2 separate regions of the Homo sapiens genome follow, and region 2 is linked to region 1. The links come from fine-mapping of genetic effects on plasma protein levels. A gene starts in region 1. The other region holds a variant in brackets. All regions are shown on one strand. Distances are between the middles of the regions.

Region 1 (15,218 bases):
ACCATGTTGGCCAGGCTGGTCTCGAACTCCTGACCTCAAGTGATCCTCCCGCCTTGGCCTCCCAAAGTACTGGGATTACAGGCCTGGTGTATTCCTTTTGTCTCTGGTTTATTTCATTCAATATGATGTTTGTGAGGTTCACTCACGTTGCTGTGAGTAGCTGTAGTTCATTCATTTTCATACTAGGATTCCATTTACATGATGTCCAAATATAGGGCAGAACTTTGGGGGATTCCTGCTTAGGTGGTAACACACGACCCTAACTTCTGGTATGCTGGCAATATTCTAGTTCTTGAGCTAAGTGAAGGTTACACAGGTGTTTAAGATTAATTACCGAGCTATGCATTTTTGTTTCATGCACTTATTCTGTATAAATAATAATTAAATTATATTGAAATTTTAAACATTACAATATGTGTATAGCATACTGGAGTAAGAAGAAGCTCTTCCAGTGACCTGCCTGAGGATTTCAGCTGTGCTCAGCTCTGCATGATCTATTCAAAAATGAAAGGGATCAATATCTTGGCATGCCAATAACCTACATGTGGCACACCTGAGCAATCTGGTCAGGAAGCTTTGATCTCTCCAATTTTTAAAAATTGGCTGGGCACGGTAGCTCATGCCTATAATCTCAGCACTTTGGGAGGTTGAGGCGGGAGGAATGCTTGAGTCCAGGAGTTTGAGACCAGCCTGGGCAACATGGTGAAACCCCATCTCTACAGAAAATACAAAAATTAGCTGGGTGTGGTGGTGTGCACCTGTAGTCCCAGCTACTCAGGAGACTGAGGCAGGAGGATTGATTGAGCCTGTGAGGTCAAGGCTGCAGTGAGTCACGATCATGCCACTGCACGCCAGCCTGGGCTACAGAGCGAGACCCTGTCTCAAAAAAAAAAAAAATTAAATTGTGGTAAAATATTCATAACAAAAAAATTATCATTTTAATCATTTTGATTATACAATTCAGTGGCATTAAGTACTTTCACACTATTGGGCAACCATCACCACCATCCATCTCCAGAACTTTTTCATCTTCCCAAAGTGAAACTGTGTAGCCGTTAAACACGATTTTCTATTCCTTCCTCCCCAGCCCCTGGCAACTACCTTTCTACTTTGTTTCTACAAATTTGACTACTCTAAGCACCTTCTATGTGTGGAATCATATGCTATTTGTCCTTTTGTGACTGGCTTATTTCACTTAGCAAATGTCTTCAAAGTTCATTCATGTTGTAGCACATGTCAGAATTTCCTTCCTTTTGAAGGGTGAATAATATTCCACTGTGTACATACATCACATTTTATTTATTCGTCCATCAAGGAATGGATTGCTACCACCTTTAGGCTGCAGTCAATAATGCTGCCATGAAAATGGATGTACAAATATTTGTTCAAGTCCCTGTTTTCAAATCTTTTGGGTATTTGCCCAGAAAAGGAATTGCTGGATCATACATTTAATTTTTTAAGGAACCACCATACACCATACTGTTTTCCACGGTGGCTGCACCATTTTGCTTTCTCACCAGCAACATAGAAAGGTTCCAATTTCACCACATTCCCATGAACACTTGTTCTTTTCTGTTTTTTGTTTGTTTGTTTTTTAATTGATGGCCATTTTAATGGGTTTGAGGTGACATCTCATTGTGGTTTTGATTTGCATTTCCTTAATGATTCATGATGTTGGGCATCTTTTCACGTGCTTACTGGCCATTTGTATCTTCTTTAGATAAATGTCTATTCAATTTGCTTGCCCATTTTTAAAATCAAGTTGTTTTTGTTGTTATTGAATTGTATCATCTCAATTTTTCTTTATTATAAAACAAAGACTCAGAGAGGTGAAGTGACTTAGCCAAAGCCCCCTCAGGCAGAAACATGGCTAAAAACTCTGTGCTTTTGCTTTTGTGGCCAATGCCCTTTCTACTATACCAGTCTGCCTGGCTCAGTGGGTATCCTCACATTTTTCCTCCAACTTCAGGTCTGATTGTCCTAGTATGCATGTCCTACTACCTTGTCTTTTTAGTAGCTCATTAACTTACTCTGAGCCTGGAATTTTAAGCTCCAGTGGTTTTCTCTCCCTGTCTAGAGTCAATATTTATGACAGTCTCCCTTTCCACTCTCTCTGTTACTCTGGCCTCATCCCACCTTAAGAGGCGACTGTGTACTCTGCATACCTTTGGAGGAATTTATTAGGCCAGAGTCCAGATGCAAGACTGAGATAAATGTTCTATAGCAGTGTGGGTGACAGGCTGGAGACGGGGCAATGCCACTTGGCTGCAGCACACACTGTGGCCCCACATGACTGCTGACTGGAACTTTCTAGTTCTTTTCAGTAACCAAGTGTCAGGACAGGGGAGGCCTGAGGATCCTTGGAGAGCTATGAATTATTAACACTTGCAAGCTGGCTGCCAAGGATATCCGAGTAGTAATTCACTCGTTCTTCCTTTTCCCAGATGAGGGGTCAGAATACACAATCCTTTTCCACCATAAGAAAAAGGCACAGAACAAGAACATGCCATGTTCTGGGTTCCTGCATGTACCAAGGTCTGGTCTTGGCACTCTTGGAGTGTTGGTTAAAAGGGTATTTGGTTGCCCCTTTCTGAGAGATACAGAAACAATCAGTGGTTCTTGGGCAGTTTGGATTCTGCCTTAAAAAGCCAGACCCTCAAGGGCCCCCAAAGGTCCAGAATGGGGAACAGGAGAAGAGCAAGGAAAGTGTCAGGTATATCAAGGCTACAGCCTCAGCCTGACCTCATCCCTCTGGGGACCATCCCATGCAGAGGTAAAGGGTCAGTGAGAAAGAATCAGGAACCATGAACAGCCTAGTGGCCCAAGTCTGTAGCTTGATTTAAAAGACATCCCTCGGCCGGGCACGGTGGCTCACGCCTGTAATCCCAGCACTTTGGGAGGCCGTGGTGGGCGGATCACCTGAGGTCGGGAGTTCAAGATCAGCCTGGCCAACATGGAAAAACCCTGTCTCTACTAAAAATACAAAATTAGCCAGGCATGATGGTGCATGCCTGTAATCCCAACTACTAGGGAGGCTGAGGCAGAAGAATCGCTTGAACCTGGGAGGCAGAGGTTGCTGTGAGCTGAGATTGCGCCACTGCATTCCAGCCTGGGCGACAGAGCAAGACTCTGTCTCAAAAAAAGAAAAGACATCCCTGCCAGGCGCGGTGGCTCATGTCTATAATCCCAGCACTTTGGGAGGCCAAGGTGGGTAGATCACCTGAGGTCAGGAGATCGAGACTAACCTGGCCAAAATGGCAAAACGCTGTCTCTGCTAAAGATACAAAAAAAAAAAAAAAAAAAATCTTCCGGGCGTGGTGGCAGGTGCCTGTAATCCCAGCTACTTGGGAGGCTGAGGCAGAAGAATTGCTTGAACCCGGGAGGTGGAGGTTGCAATAAGCTGAGATCATGCCATTGCACTCCAGCCTGGGCAAGAGAACGAGACTCTGTCTCAGAAAAAAAAAAGACATTCCACCTCAAAGTATTACCTTCCCCAGAATGGTTCCAGTGCCCCCTGACATTCTAGCTTGGAAAGTAAACTAATTGTGCCCATCCTGTTTACTCTGTTGCTTAGAATTCTTGCCAGGATGCTGGGCGCGGTGGCTCACACCTGTAATCCCTGCACTGTGGGAGGCCGAGGCAGGTGGATCACTTGAGGTCAGGAGTTCGAGACCAGCCTGGCTAACATGGTGAAACCCCGTCTCTACTAAAAATACAAAAAATGGGCTGGGCGTGGTGGTGGGCACCTGTAGTCCCAGCTACTTGGGAGGCTGAGGCAGGAGAATCACTTGAACCCAGGAGGCAGAGGTTGCAATAAGCCGAGGTTGCGCCACTGCACTCCAGCCTGGGCAACAGAGTGAAAGAGCGAAACTCTGTTTCAAAAAAAAAAAAAAAAAAGAGAAAGAATTCTTGCCAAGGAAAAAGCAATGCTTGTCTTTTTTTTTTTTTTTTGGAAATGTAGTCTCGTTCTGTCACCCAGGCTGGAGTGCAGTGGCATGATCTCAGCTCACTGCAACCTCTGCCTCCTGGGTTCAAGTGATCCTCCTGCCTCAGCCTCCCAACCAGGATTCCAAGTGTGCTCTACCACGCCTAGCTAATTTTTGTATTTTTAGTAGCGACAGGGTTTCACTATGTTGGCCAGGCTGAATTTGAACTCCTGACCTCAAGTGATCCACCCACCTCAACCTCCCAGAGTACTGGGATTGCAGGCATGAGCCACCACACCTGACCAATGATTGTCTTTATTATCCACTGAAGAAAGTACATTTTCTCCTCTAAAGCCCAAGTCAGCATGAGGATGGCACCATCCAGTTTGCCTTAGGGTAGAGTGCAGCCTCTGTGCCTCCAGACAACTGTAGAAGTGCCTGCAATTCCACTCAGCAGAGTATTTTTTTGCTAAGCACCCTTTGCTAAGTACTACCTATTCATTTCCTCTGGATCAATTGAAAATACCAGGGAGGGTAAATGTTAAATCTTTGATGGAAGAATGAGGCATCAAGACCTGGGACTCTTCGTGCCTGAGGGAAGGTTGAGAAAGAATGGCCATTGCCAAGTGTGGGAGACCAGTTTCCCCAACTTCTTCAGCCAAAGACAGCTTCGCAGGTGCCTTTCAGAGGAGCCCTGCACTGGGATTCACATAGTGTGGCTTGCAGGCAGCTCTCGGAGCAGCCCCACAGGCCTGGTCTCCCTTAGGAGGAGGCCTGGCCGCAAAGGAACTTGGTGTCCTCTATGACCGGAGAGGGACAAGACAGGCTCTATAGGACACCAAAGTAATTTGGGCACATTTTTCTATGCCTTCTGTTTTAAAAGACATAACTTGAGAGTACCTGGTGAGCCATTCACTACAGACTGGAAATTAGAATAGAGGCTGAGAGAGACATTTTTTTCCAGGCCTGCCCTGTCATCTTGATACCCAAACCCCTGAAGCTGCCACCTCTGTCTCCACAATAAAACAGCCCTGAGGTCAGGTGTGGTGGCTCGTGCCTGTAATCCTAGCACTTTGGGAGGCCGAGGCAGGTGGATTACCTGAGGTCAGGAGTTTAAGACAAGACTGGCTAACATGGCAAAACCCCGTCTCTGCTAAAAATACAAAAATTAGCCAGGCATGGTGGCACGCGCCTGTTGTCCCAGCTACTCAGGAGGCAGAGGCAGGAGAATCGCTTGAACCCGGGAGGCAGAGGTTGCAGTGAGCTGAGATTGTGCCACTGCACTCCAGCCTGGGTGACAAAGCGAGACTCTGTCTCAAAAAAAAAAAAAAAAAAAGCAAAACCAAAAAAACCCAGCCCTGACTCCCTCTCCATATTTTATCATTATTCTATTACCAACGACCCTGGGCTAAAGGCCAGCAGTGACAGTGGCTGGGACAGGGGCTGAGATGCCTGCACAGCTTTGCTGTATGTGCCTCTGGCTCTGAGGCTTGGTTTCCTTCCAGAAAACTGTTGGCTGTGCTAGGTGTCAGTTCACCCTTCTCCAGGGGAGAAGCTGGGCCTCGCACCAGCCCCTGGAGCCTCAAATGTGCTCCCTCACAGCCACTGGGGCTGCTCACCAACCATCACAGTAGGCCCTGAACTGGGCCAAGGTCAGAGTTACTCTCCCTCACCCACACTCCCCAAACTCACACATGCTAAGCAACAAGGGGAAATGTGACAGGAGAATGAGCTCTACTCTTTACATGCGGGTGTAGCCTCTGGCACCTTCGTGGCCTGGAAGTCTAACACAGTCCAGTGAAATGTAGAAATAGCTACAAAGCTAAAGTGACCTTTGGCTGCAGTGAACACACGAGACTTGGACTAAGCCGAGGCAGGTAGCAGGTCTGAGCCATGTATCTAACAAGGGAGACTGACAAACTGGACTCTGTTCAGAGAAGAGGAGAAAGGACAAACAAAATATTGGAACCGTGAAAGCACTAAAATAATTGTAAGAAATAATTGCAGGAGCTGGGGATATTTAGCCCAGAAAGGAGAAACTTTAGAATGATTAACTTTCTTCAGAGAGTTGATAGACTCCTGAGTAGAAAGGAAAACTAGGTAATGCTGGCCAGGCGCGGTGGCTCACGCCTGTAATCCCAGCACTTTGGGAGGCCGAGGCAGGTGGATCGCCTAAAGTCAGGAGTTTGAGACCAGCCTGACCAACATGGTGAAACCCCTTCTCTACTAAAAAATACAAAAAATTAGCTGGGCGTGGGAGCGGTGGCTGCAATCCCAGCTGCTCAGGAGGCTGAGGCACAAGAATCACTTGAACCCAGGAGACAGAGGTTGCAGTGAGCCAAGATTGTGCCACTGCACTCCAGCCTGAGCAACAGAGTGGGACTCTGTCTCAAAAAAAAAAAAAAAAGAAAAAAGAAAAAGAAAAAGAACACTAGGTAATGATACTAGCCCACACCTGAGTACTTTTATATGCCAAGCACCATGCCAATTGTTTTACACACTTTCTCATTTACTCTAAACAGCAGTTCTGTGATATAACTGCAATTATTATCCCCATTCCACAGTTGAGGAAAACACAGAAAGGTTGAATGACTTATCCAAGGTCACGTAGTAAGTGGAGTCAGGACGTAAATCCAGGCAGTCTGCCTCATGTGCCTGAGACTTGCCTGCCATCCATAGACATTTCCCATGTGGGGCCCTCAGCAGACTTCATTGAAAGTTAAAGGCAGGCAGGACTGACAGCAGCACAAGGAAGAATTTTACTGGAAGTATTCCACAAGGGATATTGTGTGGATACTTTGGGTGGTAGTGAGCTGCAGAACAGTAGACAGATTCAAGCAGAGGATGCAAGAGGTATTACCCTGAACAGTTCGCAAGGAGCATTACAGCAACAATAGCACCAGGGAACTTGTTAGGAATACAACTTCTTGGACCACCCCCACCCCTGCCCTGAGTCCCTGAATTAGAAACTCTGCAGCTGGGCCCAGCCATCCGAATTGTTCAAAGATGCCCTGCTGGTGATGTTAATACACGCTCAAGTTTGGGAAACACTGGCATGCAAGTGTCTGCACACTTCCAGGGACTGGAAGACTGCTGCAGTCTCTTCTGCTTCCAAAACCCCATAATTCTACAGAAGTAAGATGGAAATACAATTCAATGTCCACTCAGTTTTTCTTTGTCTTAATGTCGAGCACTTACTATTAGTATCTTGAAAACAATCTATCAGTTGCTAAATTGTGTAACTGGACTCATACACCTTAGACATTGAAAGGCCCACAGGATACATATTTGGGAGGCTGTGGATGACCAGGAGGCAGCCTATATTTCAGCCACCTCATTGCTTCACTGACTTCCAAACCAGCCCCATATGTCCCTGCTCCTTGCTGGTTCATACTGTTCCTCTACCCCTGCCTTTTGAAATCCTGCCTTCTTTCAAAGCTCAATTTAAATGTCACATTGTCCACACAGAGTGCCTAACACTGTCTGCGCCCACAGGGCAGTCTCCTTTTCTTCCTCCCAACCTCCCCTGCTTCCTGGGTTCTCTCTCACTTCTGGGGTACTTAGAGCTCTTGGTGCATTCTGCTTCTGCTTCATCTCACGGGAATGCAGGCCTCTCTCAGCAGTGTGCTCGCCTTGACAGCAGGCCCCATTCAGTCATCGTCAACCCCGCAGGGCCTGGCACACAATAACCTTGTGAGAAGCGACCAAAAGCAACATTTGCAGAAAACTGTGCATGCAACCGTTTGCAGGATGGACAGACACTACATGGCTGGTGAAAAGGAAGCGCGCTGCGATTCACTTTTGAGCCCTGAGGTCTTTGCAGAACTTTGAGGTTTTTTGCAATAACCAGTATGAATACATGTGTGTCAGCTAGTACTTAAGTGGCCCCAACCTCACTCACCCACAACTCTGGTTGCCTTTAACTTCTCTTCATGTTGCTAATAATCACTGTTTTACAGCTCCTGGATGATAAGGAATGCTGAGTGCTCTCAGAGCCAACCTTTGAAAGGTTCTCATAGACCCAAGGAGGGAGAAGTCTCCATTTTAGAGAGCAGAGAGGTCATCTGTTTGAACACTATCATAGAGACAGCAAATAAGGATACTGGGAGAGCAGAGACCAGGCCCAGTTTAGCAGTTTATGCCAGTGGGACCCAGTATCCTGTGGGCTGTGGTGGACTGGTCCTGTGACCAGGATGATGGTGAGACACTCCTCTTCCCAACATGGGTTCCCAACCCCCAGGCTCCCAGAATGGACTCATTCTGCAGTGAAAGCTAACACTTTGATGGAGTGAAGAAGTATTTCTTTTCTTTTTTCTTTTTTTTTTTTTTTTAGAGACACAGTCTCACTCTGGCATCCAGGCTGGAGTGCAGTGGCGCAATCACGGTTCACTGCAAGCTCCGCCTCCCGGGGGGTCACACCATTCTCCTGCCTCAGCCTCCCCAGTAGCTGGGACTACAGGCACCCACCACCAGGCCCAACTAATTTTTGTATTTTTAGTAGAGACAGGTTTCACTGTGTTAGCCAGGATGGTCTCAATCTCCTGACCTCGTGATCCACCTGCCTCGGCCTCCCAAAGTGCTGGGATTACAGGTGTGAGCCACTGCGCCTGGCTTGGAGTGAAGAAATATTTCTAATATCTGTCTCATTTGACGATGGCTTCAGTGGAGCCATCTGGGAGTTCTCAAACCCCAGAGCACCCTACTGTTTTTAGGACCACAGAGTACTACAATAACAGGAATAAGAAGGAAAAGAGAGTCTCTAGACTAGTTATGAAAAATTTTCCCCCACCCTCCCTCCACCCTTGAATTCCTGGGTAGCCTGGCACTGGGTGGCAATCATGACAGGTGTTCCTCCAGAACCGTGGGGCTTCCTGGTGTGCTGTGCCCTTTGGCACAGGGCCTGGCCCAGCCTTGCAGGACTTAGAGCCCAATGCTTCTAATTCTCAGACTAATGTTCCTGCCATCTAAGGGCACAACCCTAGAATTTAGGAACAATTGTAATCTCCCAAGCCATCACTGACCAAGGAAGAACAGAACAGAATAGAAATGGATGGGAAGCTGGGAGTGGTGGTTCAGGCCTGTAATCCCAGCACTTTGGGAGGCCAAGGCCAGAGGATTGTTTGAGCCCAGGAGTTCAAGAGCAGGCGGGGCAGCATAGGGAGACCTCATCCATACAAATCATTTTTAAAATTATCAACCGAGCGTGGTGGCTCACGCCTGTAATCCCAGCACTTTGGGAGGCCAAGGCAGGCAGATCACTTGAGGTCAGGAGTTTGAGACCAGCCTGGCCAACATGATGAAACTGTCTCTACTAAAAATACAAGAATTAGTCCAGCATGGTGGCAGGCTCTCGTAATCCCAGCTACTCAGAAGGTTGAGGCAGGAGCATCACTTGAGCCCAGGAGGCAGAGGTTACAGTGAGCTGAGATCACGCCACTGTACTCCAGCCTGTGTGACACAGCGAAACTCCATCTCTAAATAAATAAATAAATAAATAAATAAATAAATAAATAAATAATAAATAAATAAAAAGTTATCCAGGTGTGGTGGCGTACACCTGTGGTCCTAGCTGCTTGAGGGGCTGAGGTGGGAAGATCACTCGACCCCAGGAGGTCAAGGTTGCAGTGAGCCATGATTGCCCCACTGCACTCCAGCCTTGGTGACAGAGCAAGACCCTGTCTCAAAAAAAAAAAAAAAAAAAGGAAAGAAAGAAAAAAGAAAAAGAAAAAAAATGGGTGGGTGGGAAGATAAGGTCAGTCATTCATCCTCCCCCCACCACATCAGGACCATTTTGGTGCCCCCACTCGTTGCCTCCCCTGCTCACCACCACCCTCACCCAAGCCTTCTTGACAGCTCCCTGACCTTCTTCCCTTTCAGCCTGGAGCAGCTGTGTTCTCTGTCCTACTTCTAACCAAAACCTACTCTCAGGAGAAGACTTGGTACCTTTCTTTATACTTGAGAGGACATTCTGTCCTTTTATCTTCTAGTTATTCTATCATCAGTCCTTTCCTTATTATGAATTAGCAAATACAAAATCTTTGTTCCCCAGGGTAAAGAAAAGAATTTTAAGAAGTGGTTTTTCTTAGCCCCCTCAGCACCCTAGTCTATTTCTAACACCAAAAAGACAAAACAAGGGAGAGGAAAGGAGAAGGAGATGGAGGACCAGTTGCAGGAGAGAAAGGAGAAAAAAATCCACAGTGGGGGTGGCGGAAGATCTATGACTTCTAACAACCCATTCTGTGGTTTTCAAAGAGCGAATATAATAACAGCTATGAAAGTGTGAGCAATGACGAAACTGGAGAGATAGGGTTTTAACAAGATGCAAGGACAATCTGAGGACTGAGAGCCATTTCAACGTGAGCCCCCAGTCTGAGAACAAGAAAGAAGAACTTCTGTCTCGAGGTAAAAAGGCCTGCTGGGGACCTGGGGTCCAGGTGAAGGGATGGGATGGTTGACAGAACTGCTCAGGTGAGGACAGGCTTCTCATGAGGTCCCTGAGAAACTTGCCTTTTGGAGGGAAATGTCCTCTGCCCTCTGGAGCCTGGGGAGAAGGTTATTTCTGCCCGCCAGACCAGCATGCTCGCTTTTCTTCCATGGGCATTCAGGAATCCTGGCCCCATTCTGACATTCCTCAAATGGAGGAATTCCTCAAATTACCAGAGGAAAGTTACCAAAGTTTAGATCTGCTGGAGCTCTTCAAGGATTGGCCTGAGACAAGCCGGGAGGTGCCACGGGGCTTGGAGCTGGCCCTGTGAGGCACCTCCGGGGGAAGTTCATGTCCTAGGTGGTTCACGTCATGGACCTCTTGGAGGTCCGTGAATAGATTTATTCATGGGATTTGTGAATTGGGGGGAAAAATACATCTTTATTTTCACTAATCTTTAATTGAAAGTCAGCACTTGCTTCAGTTATGAATGTAGACAATGAACCACAATAGAATTTGCCATCAATAGAAAACACAAATATTTTCAAATCTCATTACAGTTTTTATAGATTTCTCCAAATGTCCTTAACGCTCAGCACTACTACAGAATTACAACAGTTATTAGGCTGATGTCAAATCTAAAGAAGCATGTGTACTGCTCTACCACACATTCTTCTAATGTTTTGACAACTGTCTTGTCATAATTTGTTCCCTTTATTATCCCATGTATCTTATTAATTTTTAAATGTTGTTCTGAGAAGGGACTCCATATGCCTTCCCAGACCACCAAAGAGGTCCATGGCGCCTTTATGTCAGGCACCTGCTTTGGTGTGTTGAGCAGGAAGCCTGAGATCTCAGACAAGAGCTTCAAGGGCCCCCCAGCCCAAACCTCTGTCTACTAACAAGTCTGGTTCTACTTTAAGGCAGTTGGGGTTGTGGAGATTGAAAAAGAAGCCCCTTCACAGCTGCAAATGAGATCTTTCTGGGCATCTTTTTCAGTGTCGTGGGAGATCTGTATACAGAGGTATTTGTGGAGCTCAGAGCTGACCTTCCAGCTCCTCTGAGAGGTTAGATCCGGGCTCCGGTGGCAGAGGAAATGGAGACTCTTCCTTGCCCTCTTGTCCCCACCCTCCCCAGAAAACCTCTGGCAAAGCTTTATGTGTCATCTAACCGTCACCACATTCCTATGAGGTAGTTTTAAACACAAGAGGAATGTGAGGCTGAGTGAGGTCCAGCAATGTGCTGGTCACACAAAGCTTGGATTTGAACCCAGGAGTCCACAAGACTCCAGGACCGCCTCCGAAGGTGCGGGAGGGAAGAGTTTCCCGCCGTCTGTGAGCTGTCGCCTGAGAGAGGCACCGAGCCCTGGGGCCACCAGCGCAGCTCAGGAGCCCCGGGGACCATCAAAGATGAGGATGCCAACTCCACGGGCACCCTCCCCCCTGCCCGCGCTGGGGCTCACAACGTTTTAAGAGGGGAGACCCGCCCCTGGCGTGTAGTGGGCCCGGAAAATTCCCAGACTTCTCACGACCACCCGCTCTCCCCTCTGTTGAGGGCCAGGTGCCGCTCTAGTACATGCTGCGTCCCCAGGACCCACCAGGCCCAACTTTGCACCCCCTCATCTCCCCTCCTAGTTTAGACTTTCCCTGGCTAGCCCCCATGCTCGCTGGATGGCCCATGGCTGGAGTGACGCGGGCCAACGCGGGGCAGGTAGGGGGTCACTCGGCTTTGGCTGAAAGGCAGCGCCCTCTAGCGGCCAGAGTGCGAAATCAGCGCCGCCGGCTCCGCGCTGCCCCGCCTGCATCACAACAGGGTGCTCCCCTCCCGGGCACCAAGGTCACTTCCCAGAGCATCCTTGCCCAGTGACCTCGCTGCCCCCCAGCGCTGGTGAGGGGCCCACAACAGACTTACATGCTCTTCTTCAACTCGGCCCTAGGCACCGCGAAGTCTGGCCACTCCAGCGGAGTGACCAGCTGCATCAGCCCCTCCCGCCTGTCCTCTCTCTCCTTGGAAGCGGTCCCTACCCTGCGCCCCTCCCATCCCGCTGCACCAGTCCCTTAGGAAACACGCCTAGAGAAGGGACACGACCTTGTCAACATTCCACAGCTACCTAGTGCGGAGCCAGGACTGGAAGCCAGATCTCCTCAGCCCATTCCCCACCTTAATTCACCCACCGTATTCTTTAGTCACCAGCTCCCGAGAGCCCACAAACAACTATGAAGGCCTAACTTCATTGCCATCTTGCAGCCTTTCCACATCCCTCATCCAGAATTTCTCCTGTGCTGCCCCTTGACACTTTATGACCTTATTACTTAGTACAGTCGTTCTTGTGTTAACAGCTGTTCGTGAATGGATGAGCGGCTGTGAGGAGAGGGACAAAGGGGACTCCAAGAGAAAGACTCTCATAACTTGGGTTAGAGTCCTGCTCCCCAACTTAGGAGCTGTGATTTTAAGCAAGTCACAAGTCCCCTCCAAGCCTCTATATGCTTCGTACAAATAATAAATTTTAGAAAATAATAATGGCTTAGTGTTTTATAAGGACTAAACACAGTCTTGCAGGTAGATGTGCCTGGAACACTGTCCATTGATTCCAATATAAGAAAGCATAAAACTAATCATAGCTATCATTTATTGAGCCCTTACTCTCTGCCAGGCACTGTGCTAAGTAATTTACATAGGTGACCTCATTTGACCCTCACAACCCAAGGAAGAGAATATTTTGTCACCATTTTATAGGTCATTAAGAGATTAAGAAACTTGCCCAATATTACACAGATAGTTAAGTTTCAAAGCCAGATCTGAAACATCCTGGTCTGACTCTAGAGACCATTTAACCACTAAAACGTCCGCCTCTGCTGTGTTAGTGATCTCTCTGTGCCCCATGGTGTCTGACACATTATAGATGCTCCGTGTTTCTGAAATATGTCTATTTATTAAAGGCTGAGCATAGCGCCTGGCCCAGGAGCCTAAGAAACTTGACCGAGTCATGCAACTATTAAGTTTTTTTTGTTTTTATTTTTGTTTTTTCGAGACAGAATCTTGCTCTGTCGCCCAGGCTGGAGTGCAGTAGCGCGATCTCAGCTCACTGCAAGCTCCGCCTCTCGGGCTCACGCCATTCTCCTGCCTCAGCCTCCCGAGTAGCTGGGACTACAGGCGCCCGCCACCACGCCCGGCTAATTTTTTGTATTTTTTTTAGTAGAGATGGGGTTTCACCGTGTTAGCCAGGATGGTCTCGATCTCCTGACCTCGTGATCTGCCCACCTCGGCCTCCCAAAGTGCTGGGATTACAGGCGTGAGACACCGCGCCCGGCGCCACTATTAAGTTTTAGGACCAGGATTTGAACACAAACACTCTGGCTCTAGAGTCTACGCTTTTTAACCATAATTCTGGGCTGAATGAATAATTGCAATCCTTCTTTGTCTTCCTCTTTGAATAAAATGATTTGTCATTTTATTCATTTATCCTCTTTGTCACTTAATATTCCATGTTTCAAGAGTCACCAGGACATTCTGGTGTAGCATGAAGGTATGATAACACAGGAGAAGGAACAAGGAGAGGTCAAGGCTAGGAAAGGACATTGGGGCCATACCATGAGCTGCTGCTGGGATGTTTTATTAGGATTGTGACAAATGTATAGATAAGTACAGAAGAATTTAACAATCGTCTCTACTTAGATTTTCTTTTATGTTCCTTAATAGTACTGTATAGTTTGTATCCTATAGGTCCTATTCGGAATGTTGTTACATTTTTCTGGACATTTGATGGGTTTTTTGGTTGCTATAATGAATGGAACTTTTCCTTCTACCATATTTTCTGACTAATAATTATATCCAGGAAAATTTTTAATCTTATGTATTAATAAGTACCTTATTAAATTGTATGTATATACACTAATTTAGTTTATTGTTTTATACAAACTATAATTACATAACATTCTATTCTGTGGATCTGCAATAATTTATTCAACCATTCTCACCAGTGGGTCTTCACCTGTTTCCTTTTTTTATGGGGGCAGGAAGGCGACAAAGTTTTGCTCTGTTGCCCAGGCTGGAGTGCAGTGGCGTGATCTTGGCTCACTGCAATCTCTGCCTCCCAGGTTCAAGCAATTATCCTGCCTCAGCCTCCTGAGTAGGTGGGATCACAGGCACCTGCTACAACACCCAGCTAATTTTTGCATTTTTAGTAGAGCCAGGGTTTCACCATGTGGGCCAGGCTGGTCTCGAACTCCTGACCTCAGGTGATCCGCACGCCTCCCAAAGTGCTGGGATTACAGGTGTGAGCCACCACACCTGGCCTTCACCTGTTTCTATTTTTTTGGTATTATAAAAAATGCTGCAGTGAATATCCTTGTACATCTATACTAGCACACTCATGCTTTTATTTCTGTAAGCTATAGCCAAAGGGACAGGGTATGTGCATTTGAAATGTTAATATATAATGAGTATTCCCCCAAAGCTCCGTAACAATGTATAGTTCTACCTAGAGTGAATGATTGCACATATTTCTTCTTACCCTTACCAAAATTTGATTTATCTTTTAAATTTTTGTTCACTTAACAGGTGGTAATTCTGAAATTCTGAACTCTGAATTTTTAATTTGTACTTCCCTGAATACTTGTAAAACTGAAAAACTTTTTATTGCATTTCGTCTTTTGTGAACTGCCTATTCAGATACTCTTTTATTGTTTCTAATAATTCTCAATTAAGTTTCTTGGGTTTTCTAGATGTAAGTTATATCACATATAAATAGTAATAAATTTGCCTTAAGATTTCCAATATTTATACCCTTTGCTTTATTTTCTTGTCTAAATATAATGGCAAACACTTTCAGAACAATGTGAAATAACAGAAATAATAGGAAGCATCTC
Region 2 (14,889 bases), 2.6 Mb after region 1:
CCTTCCTGCTCCTCCCTGCTGGGATTACAGCTGTGAACCACCCCACTTGGCCATCAATTGTATTTTGAATTTAAATGTTTTATAGTCATCATTCTTCAAATATTCTTGGTTTTGTTGCATGTGCATGATGGGGTTCAGGACATGCTACCCCAAAATATAACATCTTGGGGTATTGAATATTTTATGTTAAGGGAATTTGAATAAACAATAGAAGCAGGAAGGTCACTGTCACCCTCCCCCTGCCCTTCTTTCCTGAAGTCGATTATAGACCCTTATGTGAGATGTTCCCTCTCTGTACCCAGAGGAAAGGTGCATCCTGGAGTCTGAAGACACAGGGACACAGAGAAGAGCCTGAACACAGAGGCCTGGCCCCGTTTTCCCCAGTTTGTTACTGTTAGATCATACTTTTATTGTCTTATCATACTTCTCCATGACTATCCATTCTTCAATAAAACTACTCTTAAAAAACAAACAAACAAACAAAAAACTGAGGTTTAGCTGTTTCCATGGGCCTTCATTTCCTTTGGAAGGCATTCCTGTCATGTAAAACTTACATTAAATAAATACATCTGCTCTTCTCTTATTAGTCTGTCTTTTGCTGTGAGGGTCTCAGCAGTGAACCTAGGCTGGGTGAGGAAAAGTCATATTTCCTCCCCGACATGTACAAATGTCTTTGACTGTAAAACTATAAGAATTTTACTGGGGCAGATTTGAAGCAAGAAATTGCATCATTATTCCCCTTTGGATGAGCTGAACAGATGAGCTAATAAACTCCCAGTTCCCCCCAGATAGAAATACTTCTCTAGCTCATTCCCTGAAGCTCCTAGAGGGTCAAACCTGCTGGAGATTAAGGGGCCTTCCTGGGATCTCCCAGCCCAGGAGGTTACTGCTGGTGAGAGGATTGCTGCAGTCTCCCTGGGAGGGTGCATGGCCATTGGAAAGTATCACTGCTGTAACTTCAGTACAACTGGTTTTCATCACATCTGCTCTTTGTGCAGTGTTGCAGGCAAAATACAAGAGCTAACATGCACATGAGAAACACATGCACATCATCAACTGTGCCTGCAACACAAAGTGCCACATGTCAGGCACAGTTGATGAGTGTGCATATGTTTACTCATTTAGTCCTTACCTCAGGCCGAGGTCACATCATCACCTTCATCTTCCATATGAGAAAACTGAGATGCACAAAGATGTTAAGTGACCTGTCCAGGGTCACTCAGCCAGCAAAGAAGAATTTGAAAGCAGGAATTTGAAGTGAAGGCAGCCTGGCTCCAGAAGACATTCTCAGAACCACTGTGTTTATACTGCTCCTAACAAAATCACCCTTGCAAAAATTATGACAGTGAGAAAAACCTGACATAGGAAAACTATGACTGTGAAAGAAATCTGACCTAACTGACTGCATCTTGCTTCTAATCTCTGAGCTGCCCTTGTCCATTCCTGGGAATAGGCCAGGCTAACTATGAGAGGAGTTTAGTTTAGTCTAACTCTGAAACAAAGATGATTGTCGCTCCTGAGACAAACCCCTTCCTTTCTTGGGGATCAGACCTCCTTAGCAAAGCTAACAAATTAGGCACGAGATTGGAATTTATGGCTCAGGAGCCGTGCAGCCAGAAGTCACATGATTCCTAAGCTCCCCAATTGTGCCTATATATAGTATTATTAGTGTCAAACCTAATATTGGTGTTTAAGATATTTTTCAGACCCTGCCTTGTGATGGACTAGCTGGTACCACTCAGACTGGTAAACTGGCTCATCTGGTCCTGTGGCCCCATCCAGGGACTGACTCAGTGCAAGTAAACAAGCTCTTACACCCTGTGATTTCCAACCAATCAGCTTTGCACATTCCCTAGCCCCCTGCCTGCCAAACTATCCTTAAAAAACAAAAAACCAAAAACCAAAAACCAAAACCAAAACAAAACAAAAACCCTAGTCTCTGAATTTTGGGGGAGGCAGATTTGAGTAATAATAAACCCCTGTCCTGGTCCCTCAGCTGCATCTGCATTTGTTAAATTCTTTCTCTATTGTGGAAAGCCTGCTGTTCTCAGCTCCATTGGCTTATCTGGGCAATGGGCAGAATAAACTTACCAGGCAGTTACACTAATAAAAGAGAAACACAAATTGTAAGCATGCTTCAAAAGAAATGTTAAGTCTTTGTATTTCTTTTGAAGAAACACAAAAGGAGGAGGAATGATAAGACAGGCAATACACTGTCCTAAATATTTTCATGATTCTCCTGCCTCCTTCATATCCTTCTTATCCCAACAACTTCTCCCCAGAAACCTTCAACTTAAACATGGTCCTGCCAGAACTGGGTTTGTCCTTCCCTTAACATTTTCCTCTCACCTGCCCTACACCCCTTCCAAATCTAATCTGTTCATTCACTTCCAGGTCATTGAGGATTTTCCATTTAAAAATATAAAAAATTCATAAAGAGGAAGATAACTGGTCATCCATATTCACACCTCCTGGAATTAACTACTGTTAACATATCTACATATTTTTCTTCCGAATCATTTTTAAGCTATTGTCTTTTTTAAAAAAAATTTATACATGCTAAGCATAGACCGTACTAACAGTAGAGAAAATGTAAACATATGTAAAATTTTTGATCACCTTAAGTTCAAAAATAACTTCTCATAACATTCGGGCAACACTGGAGTCATGGTATTGTGTTATATCTACAGAGAGAAGAAAGTATATTTTAGCTAGACTGTTCCCCCCAGGCCCCACAAAAGAAAAAAGAAGAAAAAAAATAAAGAAGGATATATATGCCTGAAAAAATTATAAAATTATAAAAATATATAAAATATATATTTAATATATAAAATTATATAGTATATATAATTCTATATT[TA/T]AAAATATAAAAATATATAAAAACATATATGTATGCTTTTATAAAATTGAGCTTAGACTCTATTTTTATTTTACAAATATTCCACTTAATAGTGCATGAACTTAACTGCAGACAAAGAGACAGAAACAGAAATGAAGGAATTCCTGAACTCCCTAGCACAGTTAGAAAGACATTTGTCTAAACGACTCCTCTAAGGGCAAACATACATTAAATTAAGGAGAAGACATTAAGATTTGGAGTGGTTTTCTTATTCCTTTTTACAACCAAGTTAAGGTGTGAGTTGCCTATGGTACAATGCATCCATTTCAAGTTTGATGACTATTACTCTAAAAGGTCCTCTTGTGCCCTTTGCAGTCAGTCCCGCCCTCCCCCTGGCCCCAGCAATTAATGATGTATTTTCTGTCACTATACAGGTTAGTTTTACCTGTTCTAGAAATTCACCTTGATGGCGCCACACAGGATGCCCTCTTTTCATCACTCGGCATGATGTTTTTGAGGTAATCCATGCTATCTCATGTTTCTGTAATGTGTCCCATTTTATTGCTGGGTAGTTGGGGTAGATCGCCGACACATTCTGCCGACAAGTCAGACTGCGGTTCTGACCTGAAGGCCTCGGTGAACATAAGCAAGGGCACCTGGGCGCGGGGAGAGCCGTTCCCCTACAGAAAGCAAGCGTGTTGTGTCTACAACCGAACAGGGACACTGCTTTCATCCCAAAGAACAGCACCCGTCTGCCTAGAATTTCTACCTGGCTCTAGGAGGTGAGAACACATTCCCCGCTAGCACAGAAATCCTACAAACTTCTGTGGGGGCTGCGGTTAGAAGCACAGGCTGTGTGAAAGGTGACTCCGGGGGCTACGAAAAAACACGAAGGTTTTCACATAGGGTGAGAACCCAAGACACTGGAGACCATGAAGCAATCTTGAAAAAGCAGCCCCACGTGGAAAGGGAAGAGAAGAGCACTGGGGCCACTTAGCTTGTGTTAAGCAAGCTCATGATAGGGGCGGAGAGGACAGTAACACAATACTTTCTCTTTCTTATGCTTGCGACTGTAGGACAACACTTAACATGCCAGCAAAGCTACAAACCCGTAGAAAGCTAAGTAGAAACTAAGAGTAGCCCTTCCTGCAGAATTCACTTTTTGCACTGCAAGATTTCAGCGGAAAGCACTAACGCAGTTCTCCACTGTTATTGTGCAGCCAAATTTCTCCCATTTGGGTTAATCGCAGGATCAGCACGTCCACAGTGCAATGGAAAAGCAACGCCCTGGGAAAACAACCTTCATAACGTCCTCTCCGATGCCAGGTAATTAGGAGTTCACACGTTTCCGTCTTGCTACTGCTCCACACGCCTCACCCTTTTTACACACGGTCACTTGCCCCGCGCACCCCGGAGCCCTTCCAGCCTTGACACACAGCTGGGACTTTCAGGTCTGAACAGCGGTCCTGGACTTGCTCCCACAGCACGGGAACTCCTTCGTAGCGAAGCAGCCGGTGGCGAAGCAGCAGCCCCTGTGCTGCCTCATCTACATAGAAGTCGCCCTATCCGTGATGTCACTGACAGCGCCTTTCCCGTCCGGCTCTGCTTTTCCGCCCCACCTTCTGCCACTCAGCCGACCAACATGCTGCCAGAGACTGCGGGGACAGTGACGTCTGCCTTTCCTTCCTTTCCCTCCCTTCCCCGCCCCAATCTTTCCAAGGAAGCAGGTGTTTCTGTTGTAGTTTTTTGTTTTGAGCCGCAGTCTCGCTCTGTCGCCCAGGCTGGAGTGCAGTCGCATCATCTCTGCTTCCTGCAACCTCCGCCTCCAGGGTTGAAGCGATTCTCCTGCCTCAGGCTTCTGCGTAGCTGGGATTACAGGAGCACACCACCAAGCCCTGCTAATTTTTGTATTTTTAGTAGAGACGGGGTTTCACCATGTTGGCCAGGCTGATCTCGAACTCCTGACCTCAGGTGATCCGCCCGCCTCGGCCTCCCAAAGTGCTGGGATTACAGGCTGAGCCATCATGCCCGCCCAGAAGCCGGTTCTTAGCCTGTGTTGCCGATGACCTCTTTGGCAGACAGCTGGAGGCTGTCCACCCTTCTTCAAATAATGGTTTGTAATGCGCAGACTAAAACATGTAGGATTACACAAGAAACTAGTTCTCTTCCCATCGTTATTCTTCTGATGTAGCATTCTACTTGAAATTGGAAGCCGTTCAGTATCAGAGAGAAACCATATCTATGAAACTAGAGATGCTGCTCAGATGACTGCAAACCAGCCATCCTTACTTGTTTTACCATTAGTAGTGCTATAAAGACGGTGGTCCAATTTCATGAATCTTGTAGGATTTTTTCAAATACAGCAATGTACAAATATGCTGCCCCAGCAGAGCACACTGGACACTCAGGCATGGTGCTGGAGTTTGTCATCTCTTCCATGGCCTTCTGTAGACCGTAGCACTTACCTCATGTTAGCACTTTATATTCTGCAAAGAGAGAAACAAGTGGTCCAAATTTGGAGAAAAAAAATTGGGGGAAATTTTATTTGAGGTGCTTAACTGATTACTTTTAATTTGTAGAATACAATCCCAAACTCTGACAATACTCCACAGACTCCAAATCTATCAGGCAAGTTTTTCCTGTCCTTTGCTTTCATATAAATCAAATCATAAAGTGTGTAGTGGGTTTTGGGGGAGTATAACTGCGCAGTGGGTTCCTGTTGCCTGCTGCCTAGACAGAACCAATTTATCAAGACAGGGGAATTGCAATAAAGAAAGTTGTTTACCCAGAGCTGGCTGTGTGGGAGACCAGAGTTTTATTATTACTCAAATCAGTCTTCCTGAGCATTCTAGGACCAGAGTTTTTAGGGATAATTTGGTGGGTGGGGGACAGTGAGTTGGGAGTTCTGATTGGACAGGTCAGAGATGAACTCACAGGGAGCTAAAGCATGCTCTTGAGCTGGGTCAGTTCCTGGGTGGGGGCCACAGGATCAGATGAGCTGGTTTATCCATCTGGGTGGTGCCAGCTGATGCATCGAGTGCAGGGCTACAAAATATCTCACAAACCGATCTTAGGTTTTACAATGGTGATGTGATCCCCAGGAACAACTTGGGGAGGTTTAGAATCTTGTAAGCTAGAGGCTGCATGATCCTAAACCATGATTTATAATCTTGTGGCTAATTTGTTAGTCCTGCAAAGGCAGCCTAGTCCCCAGGCAGGAAGGGGGTTTGTTTTGGGAAAGAGCTGTTATCATCTTTGTTTCACAGCTAAACCATAAACTAAGTTCCTCTCAAAGTTATTTTGGCCTGTGCCCAGGAAAGAACAAAGACAGCTTGGATGTTAGAAGCAAGACGGAAGCAGTTAGGTCAGATCTCTTTTGCTGTGATAATTGTCCCAGTTATAATTTTTTCAAAGTCGGTCTCAGGAGCAGAGGCATAGGTTTGATTTCTTTCACTCAGTCTTACATCTATGAATTTTTCATGTTACTCATGTGGTTATTTGTTTCTGTGCACAATCCTTTGTATGAATATCGGCCAACTTATCTATTTATTCTACTGTTGCTGAACATGTTGACCTAAAAGAAAGAGGCTGAATCACAAAATAGAATCTAGAGTTTACTTGAGCCAATGTGAAGACAGCTGCCTGGAAGACTCACACCCAAAGAACCTTGGATCTGAGCTCCCTTTGGCCTTTGTCACAAGCAGGTTTTTAAAAGTCAAAAGGGGGGGATGCACAATGGGCTGATAGAAAGGTGCCCGTCAGGAATTCTCATTGGCTTTCAGAAATAGCATTGATGAGAGCTTGGCTATCCCTTGTTATAGGGTGTGGGATACAGTGTTTGGTGTGGCATTATTAGATTAATTTACAGCTACCTGGGGTGATAGCAAGCAGTTTCAACAGATGAATACATAGCTCAAAAAGAAGGAAGCAGAAAGTGGTTGCTGTCTTGATTTAATGTCTCTCTGATCATGTGAAGTGGCTCACATTCCTCAGATAAAAATTCTTTAAAAAATCTTTCTTCTTGAAAGCATTGATGATCAAAAGCTCAGCCAACGTGTCCCTCTTTGCCAGGAAAGCTCATTCCCAGATAGTCTTTCCCACGGTGAGGGCAGGGGAGGAAAGGAGCTGCCTCACTGAGGAATTTTTAAGAGCACCCAAAAGCCCAATTGAAAGGGTGACACCGAGTAGAAAAAAAAGAAAAAGAGAAGAAAAGAAAAAAAGGAGGAGAGAGAGACCTCAGTTAAGTCTGCAGCTATCACTCGTTGAATCATTTCTAGTCTTCAGATACCATAAAATCAGTTTTCTCAGAAGCAGGAAATATATAGCATTAATTATTTGAATAGTACACATATAATTCACACAAGAATGAGAATCACAAAGAGAATCTGTATGCCAGAACAGTAAGGGAACCTATTCCATTAGGGAGCCAACGAAAAACATCAGGGAAAACATCACATCCCAGTTCTTCTTTCATGATTTCTTGTAGCCAAATGACTTCTAATTTTTTCTAGATGAGGTTCTACTTCATGGGAAGTATTTATTTATGTATATGCAACAAGAGGTTGTAAACACCACACATCCACCTCCCTGCTCAGCTAAATCTATCATCTAAAGCGGGCTGCGGAGGCTGCTGTTGCTGGGGCTCTCCCCTTGGTGTTCTGGGCTGCGTTGTACTAAGTGGAGAAGGTGGTTGTGGGCAAGCGTTGTGCATAGATCACAACCAGGTGGGCAGGGGGCTGCTCTCTCCACACTATCAGTTGACAATGTACAATTCCTTTTATGAACTCTTGTAAGTGCTGCTGTATCTACCCATTGTTTTTGTTTTGTTTTTATTTTTTTGAGACAGAGTCTCTCTCTGTCTCCCAGGCTGGAGTGCAGTGGCACGATCTCGGCTCACTGCAGCCTCTGCCTCCTGGGTTCAAGCGATTCTCCTGCCACAGCCTCTCAAGTTGCTAGGACTACAGGAAGATGCCACTGTGCCCAGCTAATTTTTGTATTTTTAGTAGGGACGGGGTTTCACCCTGTTGGACAGGCTGATCTCAAACTCCTGACCTCAGGTGATCCACCCACCTCAGCTGCCCAAAATGCTGGCATTACAGGCATGAGCCACCTAGCCCAGGTTCTACCCATTTTTAAATAAGGCTAATAGTGTCTTTGAAAATATACATCATCTAAAGTGACGCGATTATCTAGTACAACCTTAGCCAGTGAATGAATAGCTTTTTGATGAGCTGTGAAAGAGGCTACAGTTTCATCAGCAATACCTTTCTTTCTTTCTTTCTTTCTTCCTTTCTCTTTCTTTCTCTTTCTTTCTTTCTTTCTTTCTTTCTTTCTTTCTTTCTTTCCTTCTTTCTTTCTTTTTCTTTCTTTCTTTCTTTTTCTTTCTTTCTTTTTTCCTTTTCTTTTCTTTCTTTCTTTTTTTTTAAGACATGGTCTCGCTATGTTGCCCAGGCTAGATTGCAGTGATGCAGTCTCAGCTCACTGCAGCCTCAACCTCCCTTGCTCATGCAATCCTCCCACTTCAGCCTCCCAAGTAGCTGGGATTACACTGACGCACCACTACCCCCGGTTAATTTTTGTATTTTTTTAGTAGAGACGGGGTTTCACCATGTTGGCCAGGGTGTTGAACTCCTGACCTCAGGTACTCTGCCCTCCTTGGCCTCCCGAAGTGCTGGGATTACAAGAGTGAGCCATCGCGCCCGATTCTTTTTTGAATGTTTGGAAGAGTTCGGCTGTGAGGCCATTTGGTCCCGGGCTTCTCTTTGTTGGGAGGTTCTTCAGTCCTTTTATTTGTTATTGGTCGTTCAGGCTTTCGGTTTCTTCTTGATTCAATCCTAGTCGTTTGTATGTTTCTAAGAATTTATCCATTTACTCTAGGTTATCCAATTTGTTGGTATAGAGCTGTTAATGATAGTTTCTTATGATCCTTTTTACTTGTGAGGCTTCTGTTGTAATACCTCCACTTTCATTTCGGATGTTATTTATTTGAGTCTTCTCTATTTTTTTCTTAGTTTAGCCAAGTGTTTGTTAATTTTACTTTTTCCAGAAATACAACTTGGGTGTGAGAGGCCTACGTTGCATCACCACTGGAGGCCAGTAGTTCCCAGTAGGCCTGGGAAGAATAGTAAGATGTTGTCTCTCCTAAAAAGAGGGAGAAAGAGAAAGGAAAAGGAAAAAAAAAACCCAACAACTCAGTTTTGTTTATTTTTCTGTAGTATTTCTATTCTTCAGTTGATTGACTTCTGCATCGATATGTTGTTTCCTTTCTTCACTGAACTTTGGATTTATTTTGTTGTTTTTTTCCTGGTTTCTTGAGGTGTAATGTTTATTTGAAGTCTTTCTTCTTTTTTAATGTATGCATTTATGGTTATAAACTTGACTCTTAGAGCTGTTTTTGCTGTTTCCAAAAGATTATGTTGTTTGTTTTCACTTTTGTTTGCCTCAATCAAATTTCCCTTTTGATTTGTTCTTTGATCAGTCAGTTGTTAAGAGTTATGTTGTTTAATTTCCATGTATTTTTGAATTTTCCAGTTTTCCTTATGTAGTTAATTTTTAGTTTCATACCATTGTGGTCAGAAAAAATAATTGATCGGATTGGAATCATTGTTAATTTGTCTAAGATGTACTTTTCATTATTTTAATTAATGTATAATAGTTGTACACATTTTGGGGATACACATGGTATTTTGATAAACATATACAATTTGTAATGATCAAATCAGTGTAAGTAGTATATCTGTCACCTCAAAACTTTATCTTTTCTTTATGTTAGGAATATCCCAATTCCTCTCTTCTAGTTATTTTAAAATATACAAGAAGTTATTTTTGTATATACTATCAAATACTAGAACTTATTCCTTCTATTTAACTATATTTTATATGCATTAACCAATACCTTTTCTTCCTTCTCTCCTGTCTCCTTCTCAGCCCATCTCCTTCTCTCAGCCTATCCCCTATCTCCTTCTCAGCCTCTTGTAACCACTAATTTTTATATATGATATGACACATGAATTCAATTTTTTCTACTTGTTTATTTTTATATAGTTACAAATATGTTACATCAATTGCTTAAAAAGAAAATCCTCAATCATTTGTTGAAATATTATGTATTTTTAAATACATTGCTTTTTTAAGATTGTCAAAAATCTGTTCTCAATATATGTATTGGTTTATATTTGGACTCTATTTTCTTTTGATCCATTTAATTGATCACATACCAAAGCTCTGTTGTGGCCATTACAACTCTGTGATTGTTCTTTAAATCAGGTGGAGCTAGCCCTCCAATTTTGCTCTTCGTTATATAGGCATTTTTGTTATGCTAGTTCATGTTAATTTTAGAATCAGCTGCCATTTTCTACCAACGATGCATGCTGAAATTTTGAGTCAGATTGCATTGAATTTATAGATCAAATTAGGGGAAATGGACATCTCAACAATATTCTTACACATGAACAAACAATATCTTTCCAGTTATTAGGCCTGCACTATGTTCTCTGTGAAATATGCTCTAATTTTCAGTCATATTCACATTTATGGATTTTATACACTTGACATTATTGTAAATGATATTCCTTTTACATTTAAATTCTGCCGTGCAATTGCATAAATACAATTTATTTTTGCATATTGATCTTATATCCTGCTAGAAACAAATGCTTTTTGAATTCAGGTTTGATCGGCCAGTGGCAGTATCTTTGGAAACTTTCATATTTACCAGGCATGAAGAATCTTTCTCATTTCAATTGGACCTTTATCACCAGCCCAAGGGAGAGGAAAGTCCTAACGCATATCAAGTTCTGAGGTTGGGAAGAGTTGTACTTTGTAGATAAATGCATGTGAAATGTTCTGTATGTTTGCCAATAAGTTTTCATTAAGATTACTCATGCAGTTATAAGGCTGCCCATTTGCACTTGTGTTTAGCTGCAATACTATAGTTGTAAAATTTAGAAGCCAATGTTCTCCCTTAGTTTAAAATTTAATATTCAAGAATTTACTCCAGTATTATGTAGTGCCAGAAACTTTGGGATGATATGCAATGATATGTCCAGCAAGTATGAGTTTGTACCTGATCCTTATTAGTCTTCCTTCTGATGTGATCTATTATAAAATGAGACCTTAAAGAGCTTTAAAATAATTAATAATGGCATGCTGAGGAGATTAGTTTGTGGGATATTCAGTAGCCATAGGAAACAGTAGTTCCTACTCTGTATCTCAAGTGAGAGTCCACTCTTCAGTATGTCAGCTTCAAGACCCTGATCTGCAGTGGAATTTGCAGCCCCCTGCTGTGTCAGCTTCATTACTTCAAGGGAGGGTGAATGCCTTCAGTTCTTTAGGTCACAATTGACACATGTAGCACATTTTGGTACCTCTTCAGTTACTGACCTTTATGCCCACTCATGTCAGGCTTGCTCACCTGAGTGATTCACAAGATCACATTCCCAATGCATCAGATCACTGTGTCACAAAAAACCAAAAGCATTTATTTGTCATTATGTATCTCTCCTGAATTTCAACCTTGATAGGCTAACATGGCTCACAAACAGCTTTAAATTTGGCTTCTCAAATGTCTGTCTAATGGTTTACAAAAGTCCAGTTACTCAAATGAATTTATCTTACAGTCCGGTTTCTATTGTTCCATGCTGTGCCTCAGTGACATAAACCAAGAGTCAGTATATACAAAGATTTATTCCCACTGGTTTATAACCAACCAATAAATAGTATGCCTGTTATATATAGTTCTGTGCATTGGGTTGCCAGTCTCCTTCCTTCTTTTACCTGATTGTTATTGGAAGTGGAGATGATGTAATGTTATGGGTCACTTCTATTAGCGTCCCTGGACTACAGTTCTACCATCTATTTTTTAAGCTGTTTTACCTTGTTATATAAGATCTGCATATTTAGTAGCATCATTTATGTTATTAATAGTTAACATCTATGGTAGTCACTTCTTTGGTTAGGTCAGAGACTAAAATCTGAAAATTAGAAATCCATTCTTTATTTCAGGTGTGTGCATGCTGTTGTGTTGATCCCTCTCCTCTCCCAGAAAAGTCATTGTAGGCCCAAGTTGATGAAGGGACAGACTGTGAAAGAATGGATGCAGAGCATGGACTAAGTATGCAGTGCCCACTGAGTTGAAAATGTTGCTAAAGTTGCTTTTCTGCGATTGTCTAACATTCCTCTGAGTCACCTCGTCTGCTGCTTAAGAACCCCAAAGCATTTTCTTCACTGTCTTGTGGCCATTGTTATAAACTCCACTCTGTTCTTCCTGTGTCAACTACCACACAGTCTGTTTCATTCCATGGCCCTAAAGGCAGAGCCATTTTTCCAATTTTAGGTACACTAAGGGTATCCTGTTTCTGCAAAACCAATGGATGTTAGTGGTTCTCTTAGTTGTTGTTGTTGTTGCTGTTGTTTTTTTTTTTTTGACGTATGAGGCCATAATTGGAGTAATGTGAAAAATATTTTTTCCTCCAGAAGTTATTAGATGCTGCTATATCCAATATTTGTTCTATCAGTACACTATAATGTATCCCAGCTATGCATTTTATATTTCCTAAAACTTCACTTCTGAGAAGGCCCTTCACGAGTTTTTAGAAATTCATGGCCCACCCAGCAGCATTACTAAGTCTTTTGGAGTCTAGCCTCATGGTCTTTCTGTTGATTTTCCTGCTGTCAACATGTAATCTGTGAAATGAAACAAAGGGAGGGGATCCAGGCCAAGACTTGGCGACATTCATTTATGACAGTCAGTAGTCAGACACTATGTGCAGAGATCCTCCAGATCCTGTTTGACCAGCATCTTTGGGAGGTTAAGAGCCCAGCCCTGTCAGAACCACTATTCATTATCATCGACCCTTTCACCAGAATGCACCTGTGTGTCGGCTACTGATTTTCTCACCTCCAGGCAACTCAGGCTGAGCTGGGAGCAGAAATCTTAAGCTCTTGTCACTAAGGACTCTTCTGTGCTTCCTCTGTATCACCCGCCATAACTAGCATAATGCTTTACTCACAGGGGCTCAGGAAATGCACTTGTTGAGCTCAACAAATTGAGAATCCAAGTTGCCTGATAAGCAGAGATGTTATGGTGTAGAGAATTGGATAGGGTAAGCAGAGGAACAAAACAGGTTGTCATTTTGTTGTTATTGTTGTTGTTGTTGTTTCTTAGAGTACAAAAATTGTGACTGGCAACTGCTGGGGAATCCTAAGGCAGGACTTTAGTCCCTAACCCCCCTACATTCTCACTACATTCATGGAAGCTGCTTTACTCCTTTCCACCTTAGGTATTTAATCTATAATTAGAGGATAAAATACACAATTTCTAAATGCTAGTACTATGACTGATATAGAATTTATTTTGGACACAGGTGAATCTTGAAGTCTGCAAAGCATTTCAATTACCAAACAGAGGCCAGGCACGGTGGCTCATACCTGTAATCCCAGCACTTTGGGAGGCTGAGGTGGGTGGATCACCTGAGGTCAAGAGTTTGAAACCAGCCTGGCTAACATGGTGAAAGTCCATCTCTACTGAAAATATAGAAAATTAGCCGGGCATGGTGGCCTACACTTGTAATCCCAGCCACTCAGGAGGTTGAGGCAGAAGATTCACTTGAACCCGGAGGCAGAGGTTGCAGTGAGCTGAGATCATGCCATTGCACTCCAGCCTGGGCAAAAGGAGCGAAACTCCATCACAAATATATATATATATATAAAAGTAGACAGAAGATAGATCATCTGTGATTACTATGTCAAGGACAATTTTAGAATTCTTGTTAAACTCACCTCTTTCTTTTCACAGCTGGCCAGGACTTAGTCAGTATCTACTGAAACCTTGAATATCTTGGCTGTGTTAACTGTTTTGACCCAACATGGAGCGAAAATGTTGGTTGTACCTTGAGATTCTGACATCTGGTTGAAGTCCAGGTTCACTGGCCCAGGACAGGTCATTCAGCTGTTTGAAAAAAAACAGAAGAGAGACCAGGCCATCCACTGAGGTAATCTCCATGCAGCATGAACCACTGGTTCCAATGAACCCACCATCACCATACTTCTCAGGAATCGCTGGTCACTAGACTGAGAGTTCTGTGAAAGCTGAGATCATATCTTACTAATCTCTGTGTTCATGGTTCCCAGCTCAGGGTCTAGCACTGAGGGAGTTCTCAGGAGAGTGTTCATCAATTATTGAATAAAAGCGATTGCAAACCTCCTCTCACCTGCATTCCTGTCCCAAATATCCTGTCAGGGATGCTGAGATTTCTCCCAGGATGCAGCAAATCCCTTTCCTTAGACTGGCCCTTGCCTTACACCATTCATGCCCCAGGATCCGTCTCTGTGGGACATTAGAGGAAAATGAGTCTGTTCTGAAGAAGTCCTCTTATGGTTCCCCCTGTCGTTAGGAGCAATGTCTTCACCTAAACTCCCACTCTCTGGGTTGCCACAACACCCCAATATGGGGGAACTTCCATATTTTCTTAAAATGCTATGTTTCTGTTCTTTCTCTCATGGGCTTGAGTTCCTTTGGGGAGACATTAATATCTGAATCCCAAGTGTTTAACACAATGTAAAGAAAATTAAACACCCAATAAATATTTATGAGATATCATTTGGAAACCTCCTTCAACTGTAAGTACAGAAGAATATTATAAGTATCACTGCTTTGTATACTAGCAAGGGACGCTTACTCTGGCACCTGACCTAGGGCAGAGCTTTTTATGTAAGAATGGATGTCTCCAACCCTTCTCCCAGCATGGTTATTCCCTCTAACCCACACTGACCTGAAGAGCATCCACTGCTATGGCAGCCCCAAGGTCAAGGCTCCTGGGTCTGGGGCGGGGCTCATGGTCGCATCTTCCCCCCTTGGAGTTGCTGCTGCCCCCTCACTATAAACCAGCTCTGATCCACCCTGTGGCTCTCCCTGGCCAGGGGCAGGAGACTCCTGTGGAGTAAATTTCTCTCTCAGTCCCCACTGCTCAGCTCACGCTACTCCTTGAGGGCTTGGATGATGATAGGCATTGCCCATTTCCCCTGAGGCTTCTGTCCCAATTTGTCCTTAT

Alleles and levels. Positions count from the first base shown, and alleles are read on the strand shown. Strength reflects both the effect of a copy and how common the allele is.
For the plasma level of the protein whose gene starts at base 10,268 in region 1, TA is the low allele of the variant in region 2 and T is the other (strong association).

The links. PIP is the posterior inclusion probability: the model's chance that the variant is causal. Protein levels are from antibody-based Olink assays in UK Biobank. Linkage for the fine-mapping came from a reference panel and not from the study's own genotypes, which makes the PIPs less certain.
Region 2: its variant is fine-mapped to the plasma level of the CD160 protein (UK Biobank, PIP above 0.99).

The regions. Positions count from the first base shown.
Region 1 is chr1:145,709,232-145,724,449 of GRCh38, forward strand. It overlaps CD160 (CD160 molecule), which reads left to right and starts at 10,268. Exons shown (of 6, transcript NM_007053.4): 1 at 10,268-10,328.
Region 2 is chr1:148,330,595-148,345,483 of GRCh38, forward strand. It overlaps MIR5087 (microRNA 5087), which reads right to left and starts at 3,960; the gene lies at 3,885-3,960. LOC124904403 (a long non-coding RNA gene) reads left to right here. Exons shown (of 2, transcript XR_007066575.1): 2 at 1-578. LOC124904404 (a long non-coding RNA gene) reads left to right here and starts at 3,271. Exons shown (of 3, transcript XR_007066576.1): 1 at 3,271-3,357; 2 at 4,060-4,165; 3 at 13,635-14,040. LOC124904402 (a long non-coding RNA gene) reads right to left here and starts at 14,401. Exons shown (of 3, transcript XR_007066574.1): 1 at 14,050-14,401; 2 at 13,619-13,787; 3 at 4,820-5,325. It also overlaps the pseudogene RNVU1-21. RefSeq lists enhancers at 3,698-3,777, 4,128-4,427, 4,143-4,652, 4,653-5,160, 4,708-4,817. The variant TA/T (reference allele first, on the strand shown) is at 2,860.